Linked DNA regions of Homo sapiens: region 2 is linked to region 1. A link means that fine-mapping ties the variant in region 1 to the expression of a gene that starts in the linked region. Tissue or cell type: whole blood. Region 1 holds a variant in brackets; the other region holds the start of a gene. All regions are shown on one strand. Distances are from middle to middle.

Region 1 (2,759 bases):
GAAATACTGGTAGACGTGTTTGTGCCCTTAAGGTGACCAGAAGGCTTGAATACAAAATTATTGGTAGAGAGATTAGCTTTGAACAGGGGAAAAGGACGCCTTTTTTTTTTTCCCCAGATATGTTCATTTTTAGGTCTGTGGTTAAGAGGCTGAGGAATATCACATTTGGTATTCTCAATTTTCTTAGTAAACTTTAATTTAACTGTATTTGCTAGAGAAAGGGAGATAAGTTTAGAGGGCTTGAAAAAGGTAGTAAACATTTTGGAATGGTATGAAAAACAGAAGTGATATCTAACCAAAGACTTGGAAGTAATTGCTAAGTGATGCTAAGGGCCAACCTAAGACTATAAACTTGAAATACTCCAATTTTATGATTTTTAATTTTTTTTTCAGTTTTGTTTCTTAGCAACTTAGATGTAAGAGCAGTGAAGGTGGTTTTTTTTTTTTATATTGACCTAAGATTAGGGTTTTGTAGGACAAGTATTAGAACATGACAAGGAGATAATGTTGTTGAGGCACGATAAGAGAGTGGTTCAAGGGATGCACTGTGTAGTATAGACTGCATAGGGAAAGAAATAACACCATTTTTATGCTGATGGCTTGGGAGAAAATGGAGGATTCAAGGGAATCTAGATCTCTTGTGGTTCTAGAGCAGGTATGAGGAGAGTGAGAAAGTGTGAACTGGATAGAAGATTGAAGCCAAGATATTATATTGGAATTTAAAATTTCAGAGCTAGAGCAGTTCCAGTTTATTGTAAAGACCACATTATAGGAGTGTATACTGATGAAGAATACTGGAGGAAATAAAAGTCCGGAAAGGGAGTATGTTGTGATATGTAGCCCATTTCAGATAGGGAAATCACCTATGTTGATGGCAAGAGTTGGGCTGGAGGGAAAAGTGTGAACCAGATCAGTAGATAAAAGGGTGGTAGGGCCGGGTGTGATGGCTCACACCTGTAATCCCAGCACTTTGGGAGGCTGAGGCAGGCAGATCACTTGAGGTCAGGGGTTCGAGAGCAGCCTGGGCAGCATGGCAAAACCCTGTCTCTACAAAGATTGAAAAATTAGCTGGGTGTGGTGGCACATGCCTGTATTCTCAGCTACTTGGGACGCTGAGGCAGGAGAACCGCTTGAACCCAGGAGGCTGAGGTTGCAGTGAGCCGAGATCGCACCACTGCATTCCAGCCTAGGTGACAGAGTAAGACTCCGTCTCAAAAAAAAAAAAAAAAGGTGGTAAGTCGATGGCAACATGAAGTTAGGGTTTAGGGCATTGTTAGAAGAATGGGATGGAGGGTGGTTTGCATGAGCCTGGAAGACCGGGGACTGGTGACATCTCTTATATTTGGTATTTGTGGGTGTGAATACTAGGGATTGGGCAAACTTCTTTAAAAAGCCAGATAGTAAATACTTCAGG[C/T]TTTGCCACTCACATATTGTTTGTTGCATATTTTTATTTGTTTGTTTTCATAATCCTTTAAAAATATAAAAAAATTCTTTTCTCAGGGGCCATACTAATAAAGTGAGCAAGTGTTAAACAGTTTGCTGACCCATGGATTATTTTTATTACGAAGTATCTGTGACTGTACTTTTCTGTGACTTGTATATTTTACTTTGTAAAATTTATGTGTGGTTTTTCAGACCATTCTCTTCCTGTACTTGAGTAATAGTAGCTTTGTTTTGGGAAATATTAAGAAGATAATACATACTCCCTTTTAAAATAGTGTCAGTATAATTGATTTATGCTTCTCCATATAGCAATTACTTTTACATTGCTGAACAAAACTTTTACTTTTTTTTGCGGTGGATTCAAGTTGAGTCAGCAGATACTGGAGTTATTTGAAACATGTCAGCAGCAAATAAGTGATTTAAAGAAGAAAGAACTCTGTCGAACACAGCTGCAGAGAGAAATTCAGCTGTTATTTCCACGTATGTTTCCCTATTTTGCATGTCCTTTAGGTATATGCATTCCTATTTTAAATTTTATCTTTTTTTTTTTTAATAGGCACAGAACCATGCACCTACTTTAGATTTTAAATACTCTTATTACTTTCTTCTGTTTCTTTAGAAAGCAGACTTTTTTTGGTTGGGTCCTCTTTAAATGGATTTGGTACCCGGAGCAGTGATGGTGATTTATGCCTAGTTGTTAAGGAAGAACCAGTAAGTAAGGAAACATTTATTCCAAGTGTGTTTCTCATGTTAATGAGTTAAGAAATTTTACATAAAAGTCATTGAGGGAAAAAACTTGCTTTGTTGTGATTACTTCTTTGAATTTTGTTTACCATAATTGCAGGAAACCTAGGTAATTTTTTATTTTTAAGGCATGTGCACAATAAGCATAATAGGAAGTATAGCATTAATTTAATTCTAAGTTTTTAAAGTGAGATGGCTTCACTATGTGTTTTTTTTTTTTTCAAGAGCTCTACCTCTGTTTTGAAATGTCATTAGTTTGGATATGTTACCAGGATGCAGCAAAGAAGAGTATGTGGCAATATTATCTTCTTGATGTATTTCCTTTCCATTTGAATTCTCACTGATTCTATTTTTAATCTTTACTTTTTTTCTCTTTGAAAATGCTTATTAAGGGAAAATAGATTTCACTAAAATTTAAAATAAGACTCGTGTTTATTAAATTTAAAATATTTTTCTCTATGAATGACATTTTGCCTTTGTTTTTTTTTCTTTTTCTTTAGCAACAATATTGTGTTAATTTAGTACAGGTTGAGTATTCATTATCTAAAATGCTTGGGACTAGAGTTTTTTGG
Region 2 (2,759 bases), 28 kb before region 1:
CTGAGTTAAGAAACTAGAGAAACAAAACAAGAAATTTAAAAATTAAAAAATAGCAGAGTAAAGGAAACAATAAACATAAGAGCAGAAATCAATAAAATAGAAAACAGAAAACCAGTAGAGAAAATCCAAGAAAGCAAAAACGGGCTTTGAGATTTGAGATCCGTAAACCGAGAAGCCCCTCACCAGATCGATCAGAAAAAAAGATGACACACAAATTACCAATTTCAGAACCTGAGGGGTCAGATTTTATAGACATTAAGTGGACAATAAAGGAATACAGCTAACAGATTTGCATTATTAAACAATTTAGACATTTCTACAAATTATTAAAGCTCACTCAAGAGGCGATATCAATAAATATTTGTTGAATTAGTGAATACCAGCTATTACTATGGGCAAGGCGCTAAGTCCAGGCTTTAGAGAGAAAGAAAGCATTTTTTTTTTTTTTTTTTTTTGAGACAAAGTCTTGCTCTGTCGCCCAGGCTGGAGTGCTGTGGCACGATCTCGGCTCACTGCAACCTCCGCCTCCCGGGTTCAAGCGATTCGCCAGCCTCAGCCTCTTGAGTAGCGGGGTTACAGGCGCACGCCACCAAGCTCGGCTAATTTTTGTATTTTTAGTAAAGATGGGGTTTCACCATGTTGGCCAGGCTGGTCTCGAACTCCTGACCTCGTGATCCGCCCGCCTCAGCCTCCCAAAGTGCTAGGATTACAGGGGTGAGCCACCGCGTCCGGCCAAAGAAAGCATTTTCCTTCCAAAGAAGCTCTCAGGTTACTGGAGGGGCAAAAGAACAGATAAAGTTTAATGTTGCTCCGGGGGAGAAGATTAGGGGAACACTGGTTAAAGAAAGGCTTCTCTGGGGACAAGTCACTCGGCCAACACACGAAGGACCCACAGAAAACGTCTGTTACAGCTAGAACGGCTGCACGTGAGTTCAGGCAAGGGGCCCAGAAGTGGCCCTCCGGCGACTGCCTGCTCCACCCCTCTTAGTGCAGTCCTAACCCTTTCCCAACTTGTGCTGGCAGCAGTTAAGAAACTCCTTTCAAATCCGGCTGTCTTGCGCCTGCGCATTCAAGCAAAGCGCTCATAGGCGGGGTGGGGGGGGTGGGGGGGGTTGGGGGGTGGGGGGGGTTGGGGGGTGGGAGGGAGGCGGCCACCGGAAGTGTGACCTTTCGCTCCCCGCTGCCTATTCTCATCCGGGGTCACGTCGGTCTTCCGGGTGTCTTTGACAGGGTTTTCTACGCCGCTTTTTCGGCGACTTTTTGCTCTTCCGCTTTTTGCCACCGCCCCCAACCTTCTATATCCTTGCAGCCCCTACCTTTTCTTGTGTTGCTCCTCCCCTGGCAGCCGTGAGGGGGGTTAGATCTCAGCCGGAGCCGGAGCTGGGCCTAGCTGTCCCACGGGCCACCACTACCTCCTTTGGTTCGGGAGAAAGCTACGACCAAGTACGCCCAGCTCGGGCCTTAGAACTTCTGAACGGGCAGTGCGGGTAGGCCCTGCTTAGCCCTTCCCGGAGGACACCTGTGAGTTTAGGGGGTTTCGGAGAGGAACGCAGCAGTGTAGGCCCAGGTCGGCGGCGGGGCACGGGAAACTTTTCCGAAACGGTAGCGTTTTGTTTTGCGTGGGAGGTTCCAGCAGTATCTCTTGGTTATTCCAAATTTATGGGCGGCATCTGGGCTGCTGTACATTTTGAAGAATCTTAGGACCGCTTACTTTGCTTACTCGTTTTCTATTCCTCGCGTACTGCCTCGTCCACCACTCCAGGACCAAAAGAGGAAGATAGTCTTGGGACCCTTGCATGGTGTTTCAAAGGGTGGTGAAGAACTAAGGTACGTAGCTGGATTAATTAAAAAATTTAAAAGGCATTTATCTTTTAAGCCTTAATTAAATGGCATGAAATTGCTTCAGCTTTTCACTTTATAGGAAAATGCACAGGTTAAGACTGTTGTGTGCGTTTCTTTTCTTGTTCAGCCTTTGTAGAAAAGCTCTTCGTCTCTCAAGGTGAGAACACGAAAGGCTTATATGTCTCAAAACTTATGGATTCTCTAAATTACTTGTCTTATCTCTTTCAACTCTTTGTTTAAAGTAGCAGATATTTTTCATTAGGGTGAACAGAGAAGAAACAAAGGGAAACTGTAAAACACAAGCTAAATAACACATGTGCAGTGTATGATTTTGTGAAGAAAGAGATTGTAACTGATTACTAAATCTGTGTTTTTATATTACAGGTAACATAGTAACTTTTGTAAATATCTTCATATTGTATGGTTCAGTACCACCAGGCTTCTAACACGTACTGATTAACAGCCATAAGGCTATTAATTTATACTGATTAATAGCCAGTAATAGTGACGTTACTTTGTTGGTGTGAATAGCCCTAATTATGTCTGTTCTGGAAATGTCCTGTAACAGGTTCCATGTGAAATAGGCCGTTTATGAGTTGTTTAAGAAATGCCCATTTGGAGCCATGTGACTAGATTATTTTTTTGAACACTTGGGTGTAATTTAATTCTTAACCAAAAGGAATATCCTGTTCAAAACCTGGAAGTAGTTTTCACAGTGGGTTGGCAGGATTTAGGAACTGGATTTTTCGTATTGTGGAGAAAAGTGGGTTTGAGATATCAAAGGTATTTGGACAAAATGGACAGTATCTTGGTTTAGCCAGTAAATTTCTGGTTTTCATTCTAGGTATATTCTGCTTTCTAAAGAATCCTGATGAAGGAATTATATATAACCTTGAGTGTTCTCTAATTTGTTGGAG

The links. PIP is the estimated chance that this variant, and not a neighbour inherited with it, causes the effect.
Region 2: it holds the start of TENT2, and the variant in region 1 is fine-mapped to the expression of TENT2 in whole blood (TOPMed, PIP 0.97).

What each region holds. Positions count from the first base shown.
Region 1 is chr5:79,639,043-79,641,801 of GRCh38, forward strand. TENT2 (terminal nucleotidyltransferase 2) reads left to right here. Exons shown (of 15, transcript NM_001114394.3): 5 at 1,809-1,923; 6 at 2,063-2,154. Among named protein-coding and RNA genes, the nearest start is that of TENT2, 28 kb to the left of the region's middle. The variant C/T (reference allele first, on the strand shown) is at 1,415.
Region 2 is chr5:79,611,249-79,614,007 of GRCh38, forward strand. TENT2 (terminal nucleotidyltransferase 2) reads left to right here and starts at 1,193. Exons shown (of 15, transcript NM_001114394.3): 1 at 1,193-1,827. It overlaps LOC124901014 (a long non-coding RNA gene), which reads right to left and starts at 1,089. Exons shown (of 2, transcript XR_007058840.1): 1 at 894-1,089; 2 at 223-772. RefSeq lists an enhancer at 798-1,997.